3 separate regions of the Homo sapiens genome follow, and regions 1 and 2 are each linked to region 3. Evidence: fine-mapped expression QTL. A gene starts in region 3. Each other region holds a variant in brackets. All regions are shown on one strand. Distances are from middle to middle. Region 1 overlaps ACAT1 (acetyl-CoA acetyltransferase 1). Region 2 has its middle 12 kb from the start of DDX10. Region 3 holds the start of ACAT1 (acetyl-CoA acetyltransferase 1).

Evidence for each region.
Region 1: its variant is fine-mapped to the expression of ACAT1 in cerebellum (GTEx, PIP above 0.99). The same link has a PIP of 0.9 or more in lung, tibial artery and whole blood.
Region 2: its variant is fine-mapped to the expression of ACAT1 in anterior cingulate cortex (GTEx, PIP 0.96).

The regions. Positions count from the first base shown.
Region 1 is chr11:108,142,973-108,151,157 of GRCh38, reverse strand. It overlaps ACAT1 (acetyl-CoA acetyltransferase 1), which reads right to left. Exons shown (of 12, transcript NM_000019.4): 10 at 7,111-7,175; 11 at 4,799-4,956; 12 at 3,555-3,888. The coding sequence ends at 3,768. Among named protein-coding and RNA genes, the nearest start is that of ACAT1, 25 kb to the right of the region's middle. RefSeq lists a silencer at 221-389. The variant TTTTTAA/A (reference allele first, on the strand shown) is at 3,595.
Region 2 is chr11:108,649,128-108,657,312 of GRCh38, reverse strand. No RefSeq gene overlaps it. Among named protein-coding and RNA genes, the nearest start is that of DDX10, 12 kb to the left of the region's middle. The variant C/T (reference allele first, on the strand shown) is at 4,987.
Region 3 is chr11:108,116,489-108,124,673 of GRCh38, reverse strand. ACAT1 (acetyl-CoA acetyltransferase 1) reads right to left here and starts at 3,107. Exons shown (of 12, transcript NM_000019.4): 1 at 2,996-3,107. The coding sequence starts at 3,067. RefSeq lists enhancers at 431-490, 551-670 and silencers at 2,896-3,305, 2,907-3,445.

The DNA.
Region 1 (8,185 bases), 26 kb before region 3:
CCCGAGGGTTTAGGAAGTGGGCCAAGGTGCAGCCTGTTTAGTGCCTAGTTATAACTATATTTCTGTCCAGGACCCAGCATGCAATTCTTGTAAGTCCCGTGAGGGCAGTCTCAGAACTTGTCCTACTAGCGTTTACCTTTATTTAGCAGATAAAGATAACATGTTACCGATATTTCACCATGTAAAGGCCAAGGGAAACCAGGAGGTAGGTGTAAAACACAAGAAAAAAAAGGAAAATACAAGGAAAAAAGGAAACTCAACATATTTTAGAATACTTCACTGAAGGTAAGTAGTGCATCCAAAGGTTGGTGATCTGGAAAACATTTGAAAAGTGCTCTGAAAATTCTGGGGAAAAAATGGAAAGGAAGAGAAAAAATAGAGAACCAGAAAGTAAATGGTATTTCTTTTCTTTGTTTAAGAGACAAGGTCTCCCTCTGTCCCCCAGTACAGTGGCAGGATCATTTCACTGTAACCTTGAAGTTCCCCTTGGCCCTCTGAAGGTTTGCTGGAAAATAAAGCTGTTTGCAAAAGGCAGATTAATTGGAGAAAAGGAATATACATTTATTTAATGTTGTATACATGGGGGCCTTCAGACAAAGACCTGACCCCGCCCCCAGTGGGGTGTAGAAACTTTTTTTTTTTTTTTTTTTTGAGACAGTCTCACTCTGTTGCCCAGGCTAGAGTCCAATGGTGTGATCTTGGCTCACTGCAACCTCTGCCTCCTGGGTTGAAGCGATTCTTCCACCTCAGCCTCCTGAGTTGCAGGGACTACAGGCATGCGCCACCACGACCGGCTAATTTTTGTATTTATAGTAGAGACAGGGTTTCACCATGTTGGCCAGACTGCTGTCGAACTTCTTACCTCAGGTGAGCTGCCCATCTGGGCCTCTCAAAAGTGCCAGGATTACAGACATGAGCCCCTGTGTCCGGCCAGGTGTAGGAACTTTATACCATCTTCAGGTTACAGAAGTAATGTGAGCTCCCAGCATGGCCAAAAACATGTTATTTTGGTAAATCAGGTTTTAGTGGCAACACAGGTTACGGGTAGGGAAAGGAGACCTGGCTAGGAAAGGTGGTCTTGTTAGAAGCTTTCTGAGAGAATGGATGTTAAATGTTTAAGACCTTTAAAGGTGTCAGACAGGCTCTCATTTAACCTTTTCTAGATTCCAGACAAGGGAAGTCCTGGCTGCATTAATGGAGATTCTCCATAGACGCAGATTTCTTTCAAAAAAGACAGCTTTGCAGCACCACTTCTGTTTGCTGGCCCTCTGATAGCCATCTCAAAATATGTCAAATAAATATAATTTGAGGTAAAACATTTTTATTTCCTTCAACCACTACCTTTCCTTCTTCCCCAGCCAGTCCTTAAGCAGTCATTTAAAAAATTAGAAACTTTCACCTAACTGAATTCTTAATTCTTCATTCCATGGGCTTGCCTAAACCTTTGTCATTTTTGGAGGAAACATCAGAGTACTTTATTTTCTAAACTTTTCTGTGTTTGAGACACACCTTTTAGTATCTTATTTTGTTTCATTAAAAACAGTTAGATGTCCTGTCACTTGTTTTCTTGGATTGAATGTAATAGAAATAAGAACTGTGGCTACCTATTTTTCTAACTAGATGTTAGAGGAATTTAATACATTTTCTCCAGAATGTCTTAGTATGATTTTCTGCTAATTAATTTTGCCAATAAAATATGCTCTTTAGGGCTGGGCGTGGTGGCTCATGCCTATAATCCCAGCACTTCGGGAGGCCGAGGCAGAAGGATCACCTGAAGTCAGGAGTTCGAGACCAGCCAGGCCTACATGGCAAAACTCTTCTCTCTACTGAAAATAAAATAGCTAGGTTTGGTGGCGCATGCCTGTATACTCAGGAGGCTGAGGCACGAGAATCGCTTGAACCCAGGGAGCGGAGGTTGCAGTGAGCCAAGATCGTGCCACTGCATTCCAGCCTGAGCTACGAAGCAAAACTCTGTCTCAAAAAAGAAAAAAAAAAAATGCTCTTTAAAATCTTCCCCCTTAGGACTTAAAAATCTGAGTTTTTCTATTATCTTTATGTTTTCTGTTATATTAAATTATTGCTTCAGAGTATCTTTTTTTTTTTTTTTAGGAAACACCATTTAAGCTGTGCATGGTAGCATGTGCCTATAGTCCTAACTACTCAGGAGGCTGAGGGAGGCAGATCACTTGAGAACCCAGGAGTTCAAGGTTACAGTGAGCTATGGTCATGCCACTGCACTCCAGCCCAGGCGACAGAGCAATACCTTATCTCTTTAAAACAAATTAAAAAACCTACTTACTTGATTCTCTGTTTCTTCTCTCTTTTCCATTTTTTCCCAGAATTGTCAGAGCACTTCTCAGATGTTTTCCAGATCAATGACCTTTGGATGCAATGTTAGTTTCTGCTTATCTTCAATGAAGTATTCTCATGTTTTGGGTTTCCTTTTCTCCTATATCTTATCCAGCTCCTGGTTCAGTTAGAAGTTTTTGTAAGTCGGGGCAGATAATTATTGAAAGGCATTTAACTAAAGCATAGTAAGTTAAGAACGTGGGCTCTGGAGCTTGACTAACTTGGAGTTGAATCCTAGCCAGCTTTTTGCCCTTGGAATTTATTTAGCTACTCTATGCCTCAATTTCCTTGTTTATAAAGGAGGGATAATAATGGTACCCACTCTTAGAAGTTTTTGTGACAATTAAATGAGTTTATACATATAAAGCACATAACAAGCCTCAAAAGTTGGTGATGATTACAGATGTTTTTGAAAATACTCTACTCTTCCTCTGAATCTGAAGAGCAATCTAATCTATTTCTCCCATATATTGTCATTTTGCTCCTTCAAAAGATCTACAATACATTATTTGCCAACAGATAATGTGTACACAATGACCTTTACTGCCCCCTCCTCTTCCTGAGGGGGAGTTTTCCCTCTTCAGAGCTGCAATTGAGGGTAGTGTGCATAGCCCCTGCCTGTAGCGTTTTAATTAATTAATTTTTTCCCAGATAAAATGCAATGCGAGATACTTCTGTTACAGTCTGTCCTGCTTAAGAACAGGCATTGTCGTGTATTGGAAGTGGTGATCTGTTCCCTTTTTTATATATCCATTCAGCATATCAGTTTCTACCTCCCTTCCCACTCTCTATGCTGCTATAGTAATTCAGAGCCCAAACTCCAGGGTTTTCTGCTTGACCTCCCCCAACCCTGAATGTTGAGGTTATAAGAAATTGCCCCCACTCTAGACCCTGAGGACATGGGCTTCTGTCTTGTTTCTAGTACTGCTGCACACACTGTGGTTTGAGTGATTATATGAAGCACTGCTAGTTTGTCCAGAATAGCCAACTCTTACTGTAAAGAGAAGTAATTTAATTTACCGTAATTTACTAAATGTAAATTACCTATAAAGAGCATTCACTTGACCTTTAACAATCCTCAAAAATATAAATGTGTTCTCACAAATGGAAACTTCTAGCTACTTATGTAAGTCACTAATATTACACATTGGTATTTCTACCATATTTCGATAAGTATAGACTCAGAATGCAAAAATGTATCAAACTTTTCAAGGTTACCAAGAAAAAAGCAGAAGAAGAAATTTA[TTTTTAA/A]TTTCAAAATGTTTTGGGATTTCATCATTTTGATTTTTAAAAGTTAACATAGAAAATAATAAAAAATGAAACAGCTTATCTGAATATAAGCTGACCCACAGTAGTCACACTGATTACAGCAGGCCTTCTGGTCACATAGGGTTGTCTCCTTAAATAGCAGAGGTTGTCTACAGCTTCTGAATTAGCATGGCAGAAGCACCTCCTCCTCCATTGCAAATACTGGCAAGACCGTATTCTCCTTGCTTCAAGGCATGAGTCAAATGACCAACAATCCTGGCTCCAGACATCCTAAAATTAAGAAAGCATTTACTTCTTTAATGAAGTACAGAATTTATGACTAACCAAAATGTTTCTATTCCAATTTAACTTCTTGAAAACCTTACTAGCCACTACTACTTGCTGAATTAACTACTACTATTCTAAAACTAAAACTTGGAGGACTTGTTTCAGGAAGGGTCACAGATCTTAGATCATTTTTTGAGATGGAGTCTCGCTCTGTCGCCAGGCTGGAGTGCAATGGCAGAATCTCAGCTCACTGCAACATCCACCTCCTGGGTTCAAGCGATTCTCCTGCCTCAGCCTCCCAAGTAGCTGGGACTACAGGCGTGCACCACCACACCCAGCTAATTTTCGTATTTTTAGTAGAGACAGGGTTTCGCCATGTTGGCCAGGATGGCCTCTATCTCTTGACCTCGTGATCTGTTCACCTCAGCCTCCCAAAGTGCTAGGATTACAGGCGTGAGCCACCGTGCCTGGCCAGGTCACAGATCTTTTAAAAGTACAGAACAGTATAATGGATAGAAGAGTAGAGTATAATGGAAGAGGGATGTGGGATAAACTACATATTGGGTGACTGACAGGTGCACTGAAATCAGCCCCCACCACTATAAATTCATCCATGTAACCAAAACCCACGGTACCCTAAAGCTAATGAAATAAATAGGAAGGAGAAAAAGGGGGTAAAAAGTCTAAATGTACACTTTTTCTTCTTCAGCATAAAACATTATTAGGTTTCAAATAACAGATGTGACAGGTCTCTGTTCAGTATTGGATACCATCTATCAGAAATGGTTTTTGCCTTATGAAAGATGGGTAGGAAGGAAAACTTAAGAGCAATGGGAATTATGAAGCAGTTTTAAGTTTAGCTAGAAACACAAAGGCAGCTCTTAACCTAGATATAGTTATTATTTTTACCTACCCAATTGGATGTCCCAGAGAAACAGCTCCTCCATTGATATTCACTTTTTGGGGATCAATCTCCAACATTTTAATGTTTGCTAGTACAACCAGACTAAAGGCTTCATTTACTTCCCACATTGCAATATCTTCTTTTTTCAATCCCACATCTTTAAGAACCTTAAATTTTTTAAAAGACAGATGATGTTCAAATAATTAGCAATCACAACTTACTGTCATCATTTCCTTGAAATACTACAGTTTGACATAAGTTATTTAAATATGGAAGTTCTTGGTTTCAGATGGAAGGATCTCTATTTTCAGATTTTTTTTTTTTCCAACAGTCTTGCTCTGTCTCCCAGGCTGGAGTGCAATGGCGCCATCTTGGCTCACTATAACCTCTGCCTCCCAGGTTCAAGCAGTTCTCCTGTCTCAGCCTCCTGAGTAGCTGGGATTACAGATGCCCACCACCATGCCCAGCTAATTTTTTGTATTTTTAGTAGAGACAGGGTTTCACCATGTTTGGCCAGGCTGGTCTCAAACTCCTGACCTCAGGTGATCTGCTCACTTCAGCCTCCCAAAGTGCTGGGATTACAGGCGTGAGCCACCGCACCCGGCCCATTTTCAGATTTTTAGTTGCTCATCTTATTCCATTATATCAAAGAATTTTGTTTGCATTATGTCTGTTTTGACATAGGGGACAGAAAATTTGATTTTCTTTCCACAGATATTTGAAAAGGTACATTTTCTATTTAGGGGCACATAATGCTTTATATATTCTTAAGCTCTGCTTTACTGATTGTGTGTTGCTTGGTTCTATATTCTTTTTTGTTGTTGTTGATTTATTTTGAGACAGGGTCTTGCTCTGTCACCCAGGCTGAAGTGGAATGGCACAGTCATGGCCCACTGCAGCCTTGACCTCCCAGGCTCAAGCGATCTGCCTCCCAAAGCGCTGGGATTACAGGCGAGCGCCACTGCACCCAGCCATTTCTATGTTCTTGACTGTTAATGAAAGAGGTATATTAGTTTCTAATATTAGTGATATTAATGCATCCCCTGCAGTTTCTGCTTTATAAATGTTACTGTAGGGTTATCTGGGCCACAGATATTTACATCTGTTGCAGTTTCATTGTAAGTCATTTATTTAAAATCTTACACTATATGATCTGTTTTGTTTTGGTAGTTCCTCAGCTATGCAGGAAGGTGTATTTGTGCCAGTGATTATCCCTATGCTAATACTTTTTAAAACATTACTAGTGAGTGCCCTAAAACATTACTAGTGAGTGCCCTTTTTCTTTACAGAAGAAATTTGATTGTTGTGAGCGATAATAAAATTAACGTGGAACTCTTCCTCCATCTTCCTCTCTTCTACTAGTGGACTAAGGGTAGCTTTCTAGCCTATACAGCTCAAACAGCTTCCACTGTTCCAACAACACAAAACAAAATATGGTACCCATATATAGCTATGTCTGTAGCTCTCAGAAGTTATTCTACCTTCAGAATCCAGAATTGTTTATTACCCTTGCTTTCCAACGTGATGTTACTCACTTTCAGAAGCTGCGTGTTCCTTTCATTTTCTGAGATCTGCTAGCTCTGAGCAGATCATCACTCCACTGGCCCCTTGTTTCTGATCTTCTCTATTCTTGTTTCCTACTGATTCTGCAGTTTTTTTTTTCATTGCGGGGGTTGGGGGCAGTGGGGAGAATCTGATTTTACTAAAATTCTGCAATTTTTTTTATCTGGGTGCTTACAGAAGTTTACTGTCAGGGTGAGGCCCTCTCAAAAGGAAATATTTACTTAAGATTTCTAAGAACCCTGAACCCCTAAAACTTTCTTTTCCTGTGACTGCTTAGCAATTTCCCACTGAGACTTGGATAGCCCTTACTGACAATTTGGAATATGTAGGTTTTCTGTCTCTAGTTTTACTATTTACTCTGAAGACCTGCTGCCAGCTGTTCCCTTTCAGAATGGAGTCCTCTCCTGGGGAGTGACTAGTTGCTTTCCATTCTAGATCTGGAACCATCAGCCAGCATTCCCTCCGCTTTGTGGTTACCACACCAGGTGTGTGAGTTCTGTATGATACTTACAAGTAATTCAGATGTGTAGTTTTACCTGTTCTACTGAAGATGTAGTTTGTGAGCTGTTCTTTATTTTTTTTTTTTTGTTTGTTATCCTTGTTGCTCTTACTCTTTTCAGGAGAAGACATGGGAAGATTTGAAACCAAGCTATCTCTCTGCTTTGGCAGATAACATTTAAAATCTTAAAAACTGCAACCTTGGTATAAGCAAACCAGAAGCTAGCATAATGGAGTATCGCCCCTCACTTTGTTCTCACCATAGATGCAGCATATACAGGAGCAATTGGAAAATCAATAGGTTCTACAGCAGCGTCAGCAAATGCTGTTTAAAAAAAGGGGGGGGGGGGTTGTTAAAATCTTTTTTTTTTTACTGTATAGAATATGCACAAGCCAAGTTTAGCCCATTAAATGCACATTTCCTAGCCCCTTTAATATATGTAAATATATGTCTTCCTTTTCTAGGATTCTACACTTTATAAAATTACTCCAGTAATCTAAGACACTGATTTTCATTGGGGGGGAGTTTGGGGGTATTTGCCTCTAGGAACATTGGCACCACCTAGAGATGTTTTTGGTTGTCAGAATAGTTCAGATGCCACTGGGTAAAGACTAAGGATTCTGCTAAACATCTACAATGCATAGAACAGTCCCTACAACAAAGAATTACTTAGTGCAAAAGTCAATAGTGCTGAGGTTAAGAAACCATGATCTAAGCTAAGAAAAAAAATGAAGTTATAAGGCTTTTTATAAAGTAACAAAATAGCATCTGTTAAGTCCTTAGGAAGAAGGCAAGACAGATTTCTGCAGCTAAAAATCGGCTTAAGGACATTGAGAACTTGCCCAAGGCCACAGAGTTAATAAATACTAAAACACCACACATGTAAATTTTGTATTTCTGGACTCCTAATCCCATATTCTTTTTTTCCTACATAGCTGCCTCTGTAGGAAAATGCATGTACTTTATTTTCTGCTATTTATCATACAGGACAGGAAGTTTTTTAAAGCTTAATTTAAAAAAAAAGAAAAAGAGACAAGATCTTGCTCTGTTGCCTAGGCTGGCTGCAGCTTTGACATCTTGGGCTCAAATGATCGTCAGCCTTAGCCTCCTACGTAACTGGGACTACAGGCATGCTACCACACCTGGCTAATTTTTTTCTTTCAGAGGTGGGGTCTCACTGTGTTGCCCAGGCTGGTCTCAAACTCCAGGCCTCAAGCAATCCTGCCTTATCCTCCCAAAATGCTGGGGTTACAGGCGTGAACCACTGTGCCCAGCCCTTAAAGCTTAATCTTATATAAAGTATAATGAAAATATTAAAGGAGCTTCTATCTCAA
Region 2 (8,185 bases), 530 kb before region 3:
TTTTTCCCTTGAGTTTCTTTTAAAGGGTTGTTCCACTGTTGTCTTGTTTAGTGTGTTGTTGCCAAGCTGTCTGATGCCAATCTAATTTTCTTTCTTTCATAATGACCTTAATTGTTTTGAATGAAAAATCAGATTATTTTTTCTCCCTTTTTTAGTAAATCAAATCATTTTACTAAATTATGTTTTAGAGTTAATTGTTTATGGGTCAATTCTCCCAGGCACACAGTGGACCTCTTCAGTAATAGTTTTTTGCTTTTGTTTTTTTGTTTTTGAGATTGAGTCTTGCTCTGTCGCCCAGGCTGGAGTGAAGTGGTGCGATCTCAGCTCACTGCAACCTCCGCTTCCCAGGTTCAAGCAATTCTCCCGTCTCAGCCTCCCAAGTAGCTGGGACTACAGGCACCCACCACCAGGCCCAGCTAATTTTTCTATTTTTAGTAGAGACAGATTTCACCATGTTGGCCAAGCTGGCCTGGATCTACTGACCTCACATGATCTGCCCACCTCAGCCTCCCAAAGTGTTGGGATTACAGGTGTGAGCCACCGCACCCAGCCAGTTCTTTGTTTAAGTTTGTCTGCTCTCTGCATTGTAACTGCCTTTCTACATTGCCAATAAAGTTAAATACTGTTTAATTTTAAGAGAGTCCACAAGATCAGAATAACTTGGCCTAAAGATGCTAAAAGGTGAACCCATCCATGTCCTCTTGTTACGTAAAAATGGCAAATAACTATTTGTAAATCAATTCAACTGTATATTTGACTTTTTTTAAGTTGGAAAAGAAATTAATACAACAAGATATATGTTTATTCAAATAGTGAAATTACCTTTGTTTCCTTATACCTTATTAATATAATCAGTCTGAAGTCATTGTTAGGATACAACACCTCTATACAATTTTTGAAGTTGCAGCTTTGGTTGGTTCCATCTCCTTTTACTCATATCCTCTAAAACTTGGCGGGGCCAGCATGCAGCCACCTTGATTCCAGAATGCATCCTGTCAAACCTTTAAACAACAAAAATATATTTACCTAATTGGCTAGTACACATAAATTAAAAGGCCACGAGGTTTAAGCTTGCCACAACTGTTGTGTTGCTAACTACCCAGGAGTCATGAATCAATTAGTTTGTCTATGCATGTGTTTGTTCATTCATTTATGTATAACTTTTTTCCTTTATTTATCTAATTGTCTTGTACTAGACATTCTTAAGCCTCAAGAATACAAAAATGAAGAAAAAAACTGTCCTTGCCTCAAGAAATTTATAATCAAGCATGATGGCCTCCAAAGTTAGTTGCACGAGAATCACATAGAAAGCTTTTAAAAAATAGTGCTTCCTGAGCTTTAGCCAAAAATATTCCTATTCTATAAGTATGAAACAGAAACCAGGCAATTCTGTTTCATAGGGACCTCTGGTCTAGTAAATTACAATTAATCATAATAATTGAAGCTGATTATAATCAGTTCAAGTTGAATACCACCAAAATTAAACCATAATAAAACTATGAAAATTAACATACAAAGGGAAAATAGTAATAAATAAAGTTTCCATATGCTGTTGATTTTTTTGTTGTTGTTGTTGTTGTTTGAGATAGGGCCTCGCCCAGGCTGGAGTGCAGTGAAACAATCAGGGCTCACTGCAGCCTTGAACTCCTGGGCTCAAGCCATCCTCCTGCCTCAGTCCCCTGAGTAGCTGGGACCACAGGCACATGCCACCACGCCTGGCTACTTTTTTATATTTTTAGTTGAGACAGAGTTTTGCCATGTTGCCCAGGCTGATCTCGAACTCCTGGACTCAGGCGATCTGCCTGCCTCAGCCTCCCAAAGTTCTGGGATTACAGGTGTGAGCCACTGCACCCTGCCTGCCCTTGATTCATATTTGAACCATAGATATTAATAAGACGCTTAACAAAACCATCTCAACTCATCAATGTTATCAATAAAAATTACTGTGGCTATCACACATAAGGATTCTCATACTGTGGTTCACTAGTAAAAATACTTGAAGACTCATGCCCTAATCACTTGTCTGAGATAAACTTAATTTCTGCCACTATTTTCACTTAGTGAGAAATTGGAACTTCCAGATAGTTATTTTTGGTCTATCATGGGCCAGCAGGTGGCAGGGTAGGATTAAGTGCTAGTTTTCCCTTGGGAGTGGACTGAATTTGGCCTGGGTTTTTATAGTCACTCAGCAATTTGGTGTACTGGTAAGTTTGTCTGTCTTATTAAAACATTGAGTTTCTAGGACATGCTTTATTTACAATCAGTACTCCCAAAATTCTATTTTTAATTCATTCTTCCAACGCTTCTTTTTAATTAACAGGAAGTAATTGCTAATATTTATTGAGCACCTAGTAAGTGCTATTTCTAACTTCATTACATACATTCTTTCTAAACCTCACACAACTCATTTTCCGGATGAGAAAACTGAAGGCAAGAAAGATTAAATGATACGCCCAGGGTCATATGTGACTTAATACTTGATATCATTGGTATTCTCTCCCAGTTTGTGGCACCACAAAACATAATTTTGATTTATTTCATCATGGAAAGACTTCCAACTCTCCTGTTCTAAAAAGAATTAGTATCTTCATAAATAGCAGTTTGTCATGTACTGGGGCCAACCTTACTGAGTTCAGTTATTCAAGTTAACCTTGAATCTAATTGTTCACTACCTATGTACAATTTCCATATATTTCTATGTTTTACATAGTGTTAAAGCAAACTAAATATGGCCTGAGAAGGACTCTGTATTTCTATATTTGAGTCCTTATGGACAAACTGTAACCTAGTTTAATAGGCAGACAAGATCGAAAATCTAATTTAGGAGTATGCACCTGTAACAATAGCTGAGTCTTGGCCAATCCCAGTGGCCATACTTCAACCACTCATAGACTCCTAAGTGTTCAAACTGTGTTCAAATAAGGCAAACGCCAACCTATAACCAATTCAGCTGTTTCTGTGCCTCACTTCTGATTTCTGTATGTCACTTCCCTTTTTTTAATCTATAAATTTTTTCTGACCACGAGGCATCCCTGGAGTCTCTCTGAATCTGCTGTGATTCTAGGGTCTGCCCAACTTGCGTATATATACCACATTTTCTTTATCTGTTCATCTACTGATGGACACTTAAGTTGATTCCATATCTTGGTTATTTTGAATAGTGTTGCAAATAAACACAGAAGTGTAGATATCTCTTTGATATACTGATTTCCTTTCTTTTAGATACACACACAGCAGTGAGATTGCTGGATCATATGGTAGCTCCATTTTTGTTTTTTGAGGAACCTCCTGCTGTTCTCCACAGTGCCTGTACTACATTCCCACCAATAGTGTTTAAGTGTTCCCCTTTCTCCACATCTTTGCCAGCATTCATTATTGCCTGTCTTTTGGATAAAAGCCATCTTAACTGGGTGAGGTGATATCACATTGTGGTTTTAAATTTGCATTTCTCTGATGATCGATGACATTGAGCATTTTTCATACACCCATATACCTGTTGGCCATTCATATGTCTTCTTTAGAGAAATGTCTGTTCAGATCTTTTGCCCATTTTCCAATCAGATTATTTGATTATTTACTGTCGAGTTATTTGAGCTCCTTAGATATTCTGATTATTAATCTCTTGTCAAATGGGTAATTTGCAAATATTTTTTCAATTCCATGGGTTGTCTCTTCATTTTGTTGATTGTTTTCTTTGCTGTACAGAAGCTTTTTAGCTTGATGTGATCTCATCTGTCCATTTTTGCTTTGGTTGCCTGTGGTCTTTGAGGTATTTTGGTCTTTGAGGTCTTACTCAAAAAATCTTTGCCCAGACCAATATCCTGAAGTGTTTACCCAATATTTTCTTCTAGTAGCTTCATAGTTTCAGATCTTACATTTAAGTTTTGAATCCACTTTGATTTGCTTTTGTATATGGCAAGAGATCAGGGTCTAGTTTCATTTTTCTGCTTGTGGATATCCAGTTTTCCCAGAACCATTTATTAAAGAGACTGTCCCTTCTCCGATGCATGTTCTTGGTATCTTTGTCAGAAATGAGTTCACTGTAAATGCACGAATTTATTTCAGGGTTCTCTATTCTGTCCCATTGATCTATGTGTCTGTTTTGATGCCAGTACTATGCTGTTTTGGTTACTATAGCTTTGTAGTATAATCTGAAGTCAGGTAATGTGATGTCTCCAGTTCTGTTCATTTTGCTCAGGATTGCTTTGACCATTCTGAGTCTTTTATGGTTCCATATGAGTTTTAGGATTATTTTTTCTATTTCTGTGAAGAATGTCATTAATATTTTCATAGGGATTGCATTGAATGTCTAGATTTCTTTGGGTAGTATGGATATTTTAACAATATTAATTCTTCCGATCCATGAACATGGATATCTTTTCATTTTTTTGAGTCCTCTGTATTTCATCATTTTGTTTTCTTTTGTTTTTGTGGGGTTTTTTTGTTTTGTTTTGAGACAGAGTCTCGCTCTGTTACCCAGGCTGGAGTGCAATGGCATGATCTCAGCTCACTGCAACCTCCACCTCCCAGGTGCAAGCAATTCTCCTGCCTCAGACTCCCAAGTAGCTGGGAATACATGCACCCGCCACCACTAATTTTTTGTATTTTTAGTAGAGATGGGGCTTCACCGTGTTGACCAGGCTGGTCTCGAACTCCTGACCTTAGGTGATCCACCTGCCTCAGCCTTCCAAAGTGCTGGGATTACAAGCATGAGCCACCACACCGGGCCTCATCAATGTTTTATAGTTTCATTGTAGACAGCTTTCATTTCCTTGGTTAAGTTATTTCCTAGGTATTGTATATTCTTTGTAGGTGTTGTAAATGGGATTACTTTCTTGGTTTCTTTTTCATATTGTTCACTGTTGACATACAGAAATACTACTGATTTTTCTATGTTGATCTTTTATCCTGCAACCTTACTGAATTAATCAGTTCTAATAGTTTTTTTGGTAGAGTCTTTAGATTTTTCTAAATATAAGATAATAT[C/T]ACTTGCAAACAAGTATAATTTGGCTTCTTCCTTTCCAATTTCGATGCCCTTTATTCCTTTCAGTCTAATTGCTCCAGCTAGGACTTCCAGTGCTAGGCTGAATAACAGTGGTCAACATGGGCATCCTTGTTTTGTTCCAGATCTTAGAGGAAAGTCTTGCTGTTTTTTCCCCATTCAGTATGATACTAACTATGGTTATGTCATACATGGCTTTTATCATGTTGAGATATGTTCCTTCTAGGCCTGGTTTTTTGAGTTTTTATCACAAAAGAATGTTGAATTTTATTGAATGCTTTTTCAGCACCAATTGAAATGACCGTATGTTTTTGTCCTTCATTCTATTGCTATAATGTATCAAGTTTATGGAGTTGCCTAGATTGACCCATTTTTGCATTCCTACAATGATTCCCACTTGATTATGATTAATTATATTTTTATTTTTATTTTTTTTGAGACAGAGTCTCACTCTGTCACCCAGGCTGGAGTGCAGTGGCATGATCTCAGCATACTGCAGCTTCAACTTGTCAGGCTCAAGCTATCCTCACACCTCAGCCTCCCGAGTAGCTGGAACTACAAGTGCATACCATCACACCTGGCTAATTTTTGTAGTTTTAGTAGAGAATGGGTTTCATCAAGTTGCCCAGGCTAGTCTTGAAATCCTGGGCTTGAGCAGTATGCCCACCTTGGCCCCCCAGAGTGCTGGGATTACAGGCGTGACCCACTGCGCCCAGCCCGAATTATCTTTTTAATGTGTTGTTGAATTTGGTTTGCCAGTTTCTTTGTTGAGGGCTTTTGCATCTATGTTTATCAAAGATGTTGGCCTGTAGTTTTATTTAATTTTTTTTTTAGAGTTGGGGTCTCACTCTGTTACAAGCTAGAGTGCAGTAATGCAATCATAGCTCACGGCATCCTTGAACTCCTGGGCTCAAGTGATCGATCTGATTTTTATTGTTTATTTTCTTCCACTAATGTTGGGTTTGGTTTGCTCTTACTCTTCTAGTTTTTTAAGATGCATCATTGGTTGTTTATTTGAAGTTTTTCTACTTTTCTGATATAGAAATGTATTGCTATAAACTTCCCTCTTAGTACTACAATACTTTTGCATATCCCATAGGTTTTGGTATATTATGTTTCTGTTTTTATTTGTTTCAAGAATTTTTTAAACTTCTTTCTTAATTTCTTCATTGATTCAATGGTCACTCAGGAGCATATTGTTTAATTCCCATGTGTTTGGATAGTTTCCAAAGTTCTTCTTGTCATTAATTCCTAGTTCTATTCCATTGTGATCAGAAAAGATACTCGATATGATTTCAATGTTTTTGAATTTTTATATTATTTAATGTTTTTAAATTTTGTGGCCTAATACATGTTCTATACCTGAGAATGTTCCACGTGTTGAAGAGAATGTGTATTCTTTAGCTGTTGGACGAAATGTCCTGTAAATGTTATCAGCTCCATTTGGTCTGTACTGCAGACTAAGTTCAATGTTTCTTTGTGGATTTTCTGTCTAAAAGACCTGTCCAATGCTGAAAGTGTGATGTGGAGGCCTCCAACTACTATTGTATTGGGTTCTGTCTCTCTCTTTAGCTCTAATAATATTTGCATTATATATCTAGGTACTTCAGTGTCGGATGTAGGTATATTTACAACTGTTATAGTCTCTTGCAGAATCGACCCCTTTATCATAATAGAATGAACTTCTTTGTCACTTTTTACAGTTTTTATCTTAAAATCCATTTTATCTGATATAAGCATAGCTACTCCTGCCTCCTGCTCCTTTTTTTTTTTTTTTAATTGGAAACAGGGTCTCACTCTGTTACCCAGGCTGGAGTGCAATGGTGTGATCATAGCTCACTGTAATCTCAAACTCCTGAACTCAAGTGATCATCTTACCTCAGCCTCCCAAGTAGGTAGGACTACAGGTGCATGCCACCACACTCAGCTAATTTTTAAATTTTTTGTAGAGATGAGGGTCTTGCTATGTTGCCCAACTGGTCTTGAACTCCTGGCCTCCAGCAATTCTCCCACCTCAGCTCCCAAAGTGCTAGGATTACAGGTGTGAGTCACCATGCCTGGCTCTTGCTCTTTTTTTGTTTTCATTTGCATTGAATATCTTTTTCCATTTCTTTATTTTCAGCCTATGTGTGTCTTTATAGGTGACATATGTTTCTTGTAGGCAACATAAACTTAGGTCTTTTTTTTTTTAATCCATTTAGCTACTATGTCTTTCGACTGGAGAATTTGGTCCAATTACATTAAATGTTATTACTCACAGATAAGATTTACTACTGCCATTTTCTTATTTGTTTGCTGGTTATTTTGTTGGTCCTCTCTTTCTTTCTTCCTTCCTTCCCATTTTCCTTTGTGTAAAAGTGATTTTCTCTGTAGTATATTTTAATTTCTTTTGGAAAAATTTTTGGGTATCTGTTGTAGATTTTTGATCTGTGGTTACCATAAAGCTTGCAAATAACATCTTATAATCAATTATTTTAAACTGATGACAACTCTAATTACAAAAAAAAAATCTAAAAATCTCTACCTTTTAACTCCATCCTTTTCATCCTTTTTGACTTTTTGTTTTTTCTATTTGTATATTTTAATACTATGTATCTATCGAAAAGTTGTTGTAGTCATTATTTTTGATAGGTCTTTTAGTCTTCCTACTCACGATATGAGTGGTTTACACACCACAATTACAGTGTTAGAGCACTCTGTATCTGTCTGTGTACTACTACTAGTGAGTTTTACACCTTTAGCTGGTTTCTTATTATTCATTAATGTCCTTTTCTTTCAGATTAAGAAACTCTCTTTAGCATTTCTTGTAGGACAGGTCTGGTGTTGACCAAATTCCCCAGCTTTTGTTTGTCTGGAAAAGTCTTTATTTCTTCTTCATGTTTGAAGGACATTTTTGCTGGATATAATAGTATAGAATGGAAATATTTTTCCTTCAGTATTTTGAATATGTCATTTCACTTTCTCCTGGCCTAAAAACTTTCCACTGAGAAATATGCTGTCAGACATATTGGAGTTCCTATATAAGTTATTTGTTCTTTTTCTCTTGCTGCTTTTTAGAATCCTTTTTTTATCCTTTACCTTTGAGAGTTTACTAAGTGCCTTGAGATAGTCTTATTTGGATTGAATCTTCTTTGTGTTCTATGACCTTCTTGTACCTGGATATTGATATTTCTCTAGGTTTAA
Region 3 (8,185 bases):
CAATGACAAGCCACTGAAAGCTTTTATGTTATAAAAAGACCACTCTGGCTGCGGGGGAACTGAGTGTACTAGGGTAAGATTAGAAAAAGGGAAGGGGGCCAGGTGTGGTGGCTCACACCTGTAATCACTTTAGGAGGCTGTGGTGGGCAGATCATCAGAGGTGGATCACCTGGTGAGCTGGTCAGGAGTTCGAGCCCATCCTGACCAACATGGTGAAAGCCCGTCCCTACTAAAAATACAAAAAGTAGCGGGTGTGGTGGCACATGCCTGTAATCCCAGCTACTCAGGAGGCTGAGGCAGGAGAACTGCTTGAACCCGGGAGGCCAAGGTTGCAGTAAGCCAAGATCGTGCCACTGCACTCCAGCCTGGGCAACAAGAGCGAAACTTGATCTCAAAAAATAAAAAAGAAAGAAAGAAATTAGCAACAGGAAGGAAGTAGCATACAGGCTGTTAGGTCAAAGGGAAGAAGCAAGGTTACCAAAGCCAAGGGGTCAGGATCCCAGCAGAAGCGGGAACCACAAGAGAGACAGACACTGCCAGATACAGACAGACAGACAAATTATTCTGGCTTCTCCCTTCCTCCTATCTTCCAATCTTCCACTGGTGCCTTCCAGTGGCTACACCCAGCCAGAAGCCAGCTGATATTGGTCAGCCTACAGTAATGCAGACAGACTAGGGGAGGGAAGATAAATGAATCTGGGAGCAAATAAGCCCAAGACTGGCACAATACAGGAATTTTTTTTTAAGTCTGAGTATTAAAAGAAGCTGAATAAAACTGGATCAAAACACAAAACAGTTTCAAGAAGGGAGTGGTCAATAGTGTCAAATATAGGATAAAGGTCAAGAAGAAAAAACTTGGGCTGAGCACAATGGCTCACACCTGTAATCCCAGCACTTTGGCAGGCCAGGAGTTCAAGACCAGCCTGGCCAACAGAACCAGACCCCGTGTCTACAAAAACTAAAATTAAAATAGATTTAAAAAAATAATTAAAAAACAAAGAAAAAGGAAATCACTGTATTTTTCAGCTTCAGTGGCAAAGAAATTTAACTGCAGAGAGTTAAGGAGAAATAGATGCAGAATACATGGGAGGTAATGAGTAAAGACCACTCCTTTGACCAGAGAGAGAAAAGTGATTAGAGCTAGAAAGGCAATGTGCTCCAATAAAGTCCATAAAGATTTGTTGACCATAAAAGAGACCTGGTAAGCAAAGGGAAAAGAGCCAATGTAATGAGAGGTCAAATTCCATTCTACAAAATAGCACAGAAAACTGGAAATCCTGTTTATAGTTCAGTAAATGACCATTTAATTCAAGTGTCCAATACAACTGCTTCCTAGAGTTCAGTAATATGAATGTCACATATCATACATTACAGCATGTACAGGCTTATTTTTTTCATGAGGAGTATTTGTGTTTCATTTTAAGATCTTTTTTTTTAAGACGGAGTCTCACTCTGTTGCCCAGGCTGGAGTGCAGTGGCATGATCTCAGCTCACTGCAACCTTCCCCTCCTCCCGGGTTCAAGCGATTCTCCTGCCTCAGCCTCCCAAGTAGCTGGGATTACAGGCGCCTGCCACCACACCCAGCTAATTTTTGTGTGTGTGTGTATTTTTAATAGAGGTGGGGCTTCACCACGTTGGCCAGGCTGGTCTTGAACTCTTGACCTCAAATGATCTACCCACCCCGGCCTCCCAAAGTGCTGGGATTACTGGCATAAGCCACCTCAACCAACCTGATTGTAAGATCTTAATTAAACCATAAATTAAGAAGGTTCTGAACTTTTTTTTTTTACATCTCTAGAGTACCTAGTTCACCTATGTCACCTAGTCAATACTGACTGAAACCCAAGATAACCTAATTACTTTCTTGTGATTTCTTCACTCATCCCATGAGACTAACAAATAGGCTAAAAACTCATCTTCCCTGGAAACCTACGCCTTGTGACTTTTCTATTATCTCAGTCACCCAGGATCAATTTTAGACTCTTTCTTTTCCCTTGGCTTCGCACCCTCACTCCCTAATTGTCAAGTCCTAGACTGGTTCTTTTACAATCTCTTGCAAAGCTCCTACCGCCAGCACCCTTGTGCAAGTAATGTTATTCTACGCCCAGACGTAAGAACTAGAGTGACCTACCATTGCAACAAAAACAAACATATCAACAATCCCTACTTAACTAGGGTCAAGTCCATACTCACAACATAACTGGATCTCCAAGCTTATTGCCCCCATCGACCTAGAAAACTCAAGCTTCACCAACCACACCCTGAAGGTCTCTACCTATTCCTGAGGCTTTGCCTGACAATCTGTGGTGCGTACTCCCTTGCTTACGCATGTGGAGAATAAATTCTTTGAGACTCTGCCCCTGCTGTGTTCCCTAAACACAACGGTCAGAAGAGCGACAGCCCTTGGAACGCCCTCAGTATGTGAGCTTTGCTCATATGTCAAGTATAATTTATTGTATTATCTGAGTAGTCATTTGTTTTCCCTGATAAATTTCAGGCTGCTCCAAAAAACATCTGTTATGATCACATGGTGCCCTCTCCCCTTGTATGCCCAATGATTATCTATTGTATTAAAAAAGAAAAGGAACCTCTCCTGACAATAACGCACACAAATATGTTTTAAAGAAAATCTCGGGAGCAGCTGCACAGGCCTGCAAAGAGACTCTCCCCGATCCCACCGCTCAGGCCGGGCCAGCGCCAATCCTGGCGGTCCTGCCCGCCCAGACACGTGCCCTTGTTTGACACACCAGTAACGCTCATTAAGATGATTACGCCGAGACCTTGGAAGTAGAAACGCGCTGTAAAAATAGGCGAGTCCCTGGGTGTTATCGGAGCACTTAGGCGGTTTTTGGACCAGAACCCGTCGCGTGACTGTCCTGGGGCCTAAGCCGCGCGCCCGGGCCGCGGGAGCCGCAACGGCCGCGGGCTGGAAGCTTCCGAGGCGGGGACTCCTCGCATCCCGGGTCTGAGTGCTGTGGGGACGAACCCCGCTCACCTGCACCAGCCTCCGGAGCAGGGGGCTGCGGCTGCGGGCGCCGCTGCGCAGAAGTGCCGCCAGCACAGCCATGGTCGCAGAGGGCTGAGTATCGGCTCCACAGGCGTAGACTAGCGGCCTCCTCCCCAACCCCGCACCCCTAGCGGCCCGGCGCGGGCACCGCCCATCCCGCTTCCTCCAATAGTCGCCTCTCAGTCGGCGGCGATTGGCCGGCAGCCAAGGGCGGGGCGGAGCCTGGCGCTGGGACACCGCAGCCTGGGCCAGGAAAGGTTGACGAGTGAAGGACGTGGATGGAGACACTGGCGCTGGGGTCAACGAGCACCTGACACGCTGCTGGCTCCCGTGTCCACCAAGTCTAACCTGCCGGGGCCGGTGGTTTATGTGTAATCCGAGATTTTTCGATTTACTGAGCATGTTTCCCTTAGGCCTACCCAGCACAAACTCATGAAAATATTTTAGGATTTTTTTTTTTTTTTTTGAGACAAGGTCTCACTCTGTCACCCAAGCTGGAGTGCAGTGACGTGACCACAGCTCACTGTAATCTCGACCATCAGGGCTCAAGCGATCCTCCCTCCCCAGCCATCCCAGTAGCTGAGACTACAGGCGAAAGCCTCCACAACCAGATAATTTTTGTATTTTTTGTGGAGACGGGGTTTCACCATGTTGGCCAGACTGGTCTTGAACTCCTGGACTCAAGTGAGCCTCCCTCCTCGGCCTCCCAAAGTGCTGGGATTACAGGCGCAGGCGACCACGCCCAGCAAATTGTTGTATTTTTTTTTTTTTGTAGAGACTAGGTCTCCCTATGTTGCCTAGGCTGGTTGCTGACTCCTGGGCTCAAGCAGACGGCCAGACTCAGCCTCTCAAAGTGCTGGGATTACAGGCGTGAGCCATCACACCCAGCCGTGAAAATATTTTGAAGCAATCAAATTCCAGGCTCAGTCCAGATACAAATATGGGTAAAAAGGCCTCAGGTGATTCCAGTCCCCAACCTTCAACCACTCCAGCTGAGACCCCAGACATCATGGAGCAGAGACAAGCCATACCCACCATGCTGTCTGAATTCATGGTCCACAGAAACGAGAGAAAACAAATGGTTGTTATTTTAGGCCATTATGTTTTGGAGTATTTTTTTTTTTTAAGATAGGGTCTCGCTCTTGTCACCCAGTCTGGAGTACAGTGGTGCAATCATATCTCACTGCAGCCTCAAACTCCTGGTCTCAGGGGATCCTCCTGTCTCTGCCTCCCAAGTAGCTAGGGGATCCTCCTGTCTCTGCTTCCCAAGTAGCTACGTAGCTAGGACTACAGGCATGCTCCACCATGCTAATTTTTTTAATTTTTATTTTATATAGAGAAGGGGTCTTGCTATGTTGCCCAGGCTGGTCTCAAACTCCTGGCCTTAAGAGATCTTCTGGCCTTGGCCTCCCAAAGCACAGATATTATAGGCATAAGCCACCTAAATAGGTCTGTTTGGGGGTAATTTTTTTTTTTGAGACAGTCTCGCACTTGTCACCCAGGCGCGATCTTGACTCACTGCAACCTCTGCCTCCTGAGTTCGCCTCAGCCTCACGAGTAGCTGGGATTACAGGCGCACGCTGCCAAGCCTGGCTAATCTTTTGTATTTTAGTAGAGACGGGTTTTCACCATGTTGCCCAGAGGCTGGTCTCAAACTCCTGAGCTCACGCAATCCGCCCCCACTAGGCCTCCCAAAGTACTGGGATTACAGGCGTGAGCCACTGCACGCGGCCAGGGTAATTTTTTAATATAGCACCCTGTCTTTAATTTCCCCATCACTCCAGGTTTGTCCCTTAAAGTCCCCTGTGATTCCTGCACCGAAGAACCTCTCTATTCAACAGCTCACCAAGGCCTACCTCCTTCCTTGGAATGTCACACTCACACCTTTCCCTTCTACCAGAGGCCAAAGACAAATATTTTTCATACTGGGCTGCTTCGAGAATTATTGAAAGGAAGTCATTACATTGTATGTCAGTGTTTAAACTTTGTGTGTGTGTGTGTGTGAGAGAGAGAGAGAGAGAGAGAAACAGATATTTCTAACTGAAAAAGTTGAATTGTTAAAGAAATGACTCAGAAAACTAAAGGTCTGGCCTCATAGAGATTACCAGTTGTGAGAGGCCAAAGCTGATGACTAGGGTATCACACAGTAAAAGATGACTGGTTAGGCTGGGCGTGGTCGCTCACGCCTGTAATCACAGCACTTTGGGAGGCCCAGGTGAGTGGATCATTTGAAGTCAGGAGTTAAAAGCAGCCTGGCCAACATAGCAAAACCCCATCTCTACTAAAAATACAAAAATTAGCTGGGCATGGTAGTGGGCACCTGTGATCCCAGCTACTCAGGAGGCTGAGGCAGGAGAATTGCTTAAACCTGGGAGGTGGAGGTTGCAGTGAACTGAGATCACACCACTGCACTCCAGCCTGGGCAACAGAATGAGACTGTGTCTCAAAAAAAGAAGAAAAAAAAAAAGACTGGTTACATAGCTATGTACATAGTTCTTAATATGAACCAGTTCTTTTACAGTTTAATTTTAATTCTCCCAAAAATCCACTGAATTAGGGAGTAGCATTATCCACATTTTCCAGAAGTTTGTCCAAGGGCACAAAGCTAGTAGTTAGTGACACAGTTGCAATTGGAATCTAGGCAGTCTGGTTGCTAGGTCTAGGCTTCTAGGCACTCACTACACTAGTTGTGTCTTAGGAGACACCTGCCCTAGGAGAAACCTAACTAGGAACATAGAAGTCAGCTGTAATTGGACAATTCTGCCATCAGAGGCACTACCAGGAAAAAGTGCCACTATGTTCATCAGGACAGCTTCTAGAGAAGTTCAGAGACATTTAGGAGCATTGAGGGGAGAAGAATAGTACATTTATTTCTGGAGCTACAGCAGGCAAGCTGCTCTTTAAAACTAAACTTCAAAAAAATAAGAGTAGCTTTATCACCAATATGAGCACCAGGCAAAAATGTAGCTAATAATTTCATTTAAGAATCTAGGACTTGGCCGGGCGCGGTGGCTCACGCCTGTAATCCCAGCACTTTAGGAGGCCAAGGCAGGCGGATCACAAGGTCAGGAGATCGAGACCATCCTAACACGGTGAAACCCTGTCTCTACTAAAAATACAAAAAATTAGCTGGGCATGGAGGGGGCCACCTGTAGTCCCAGCTACCTGGGAGGCTGAGGTAGGACAGTGGCGTGAACCCAGGAAGCGGAGCTTGCAGTGAGCCAAGATCGTGTCACTGCACTACAGCCTGGGTGACAGAGCGAGACTCCGTCTCAAAAAAAAAAAAGAAAGTGACTAGATTAACATTTCTTCTGTGAAATAGAAATGGAGTGTTGGAATGAAAATTAAATACAATTAAGAGAGAATTATTTTTGTTTGTATTTTAAAATTTATTATTATTAGTACTAGTATTTTGGTAGACACAGGTTCTCACTATGTTGCCCAGGCTGGTCTCCAACTCCTGGGCCCAAGCAATCCTCCCTCAGTCTCCCAAAGTGCTGGGATTACAGGTGTGAGCCACCACACCTGGCCAAAGAAAAAATTTAAAAACATTTTTTGCATATCTGAATTTGTGGCTTTGGATTATCATTCCTGTCATAGCAGGCAATAGTGTCTGGACAGATGTATTAATGAAGAGCTACTCAAAAAGTGGTTTATCTGGGATTTATTACATTTGTCAAGGAGATCTAGTCAATACCTCCATCTAGTGGCAAACTTGTAAGTGGAGACTTAGGTCTTGCAAAGTATTATTAAAATATTGATAAAATAAAGCCCTCTGAAATGTCCATGAGACCCAGAGTGGCTTTCTAGAAGTAGAAGTTAGTTTTAGGAATATTAGAGCAATATTTTCACAGCAGGAAACTAGTGGAAAATTAAAAACATTTAAGAAAAACTTGTGGGTATTATATTTATAATACAAAGATGTTTGATATTCATTTCCAAGTAAGTTCTTCTACAACGAACAACTTCTGTCAAACTTAGACTACTGGAATAACTCGTTGTACTACGTTAAACAGTGTCCTTCCAAAAGATATGTTTGTTTAAGGGACAGGGTCTCTGGCCAGGTGTGGTGGCTCATGCCTGTAATTCTAGCACTTTGGGAGGCCAAGGAGGGCAGATCACCTGAGGTCAGGAGTTCCAGACCAGCCCGGCTAACATGGTGAAACCCTGTCTCTAGTAAAAATACAAAAAATTAGCTGGGTGTGGTGATGGGCTTCTGTAAGCCCAGCTACTCAGGAGGCTGAGGCAAGAGAATCGCTTGAACCCAGGAGGTGGAGGTTGCAGTGAGTCGAGATCGTGCCACTGTACTCCAGCCTGGGCGACAGAGCAAAACTCTGTCTCCAAAAAAAAAAAAAAAGAGAGAGACAGAGCCTTGCTCTGTCACCCAGGCTGGAGTGCAGTGGTGCGATCATAACTCACTGCAGCCTCCTAAGCTCAAGTAATCCTCCTGCCTCAGCCTTCCAAGTAGCTAAGACTACACGTGTGTCACCATGCCCACCTAATTTTTATTTTTTGTAGAGATGGGGCACTCACATTTCCACCCACTTTCTCTTCAAGGCAATCTAGGCTTAGTCTATCATGTGCCTCAAACTTCTTCCTCTGCCCATCACCCCAATCTATTAATAAAGGCACTTCCATGTTTGTGTATATTAATATGGCAGCACCCCACTTTTCAGTACCAAAATCTGTATTTGTTTCCTAAGATTGCAGCAGCAAATTACCACCAACTGGGTGGCTTAAAACAAAAGAAATGTATTTTCTTACAGTTCTGGAGGCTGGAGTCCAAGATCCAGGTGTTGGCAGGATTGGTTCTTTCTGTGGGTTCTAACGGAGAGTCTGTTCCATGCCTCTCTCCAAGATCGTGGTGGTTGTTGGAAATCCTTGGTATTCCTGGCTTTGTAGAGGCATCAGTCCAACCCCTGTCTTCTCCCCTGTGTGTGGCTTTTTCTCCACTCTTGCTATAAGGACACTGGTCATTGGATTTAGGGCCCATCCAAATCCAATTATGACCTCATCTTAATTTGATTACACCTGCAAGTTCTCTATTTCCAAATAGTCACATTCATAGGTACTTCGAGTTAAGACTCTAATATATCTCTTAGGGGCCAGGTGTGGTGGCTCAGGCCTGTAATCCCAGCACTTTAGGAGGCCAAGGCAGGAGGATGACTTGAGGCCAAG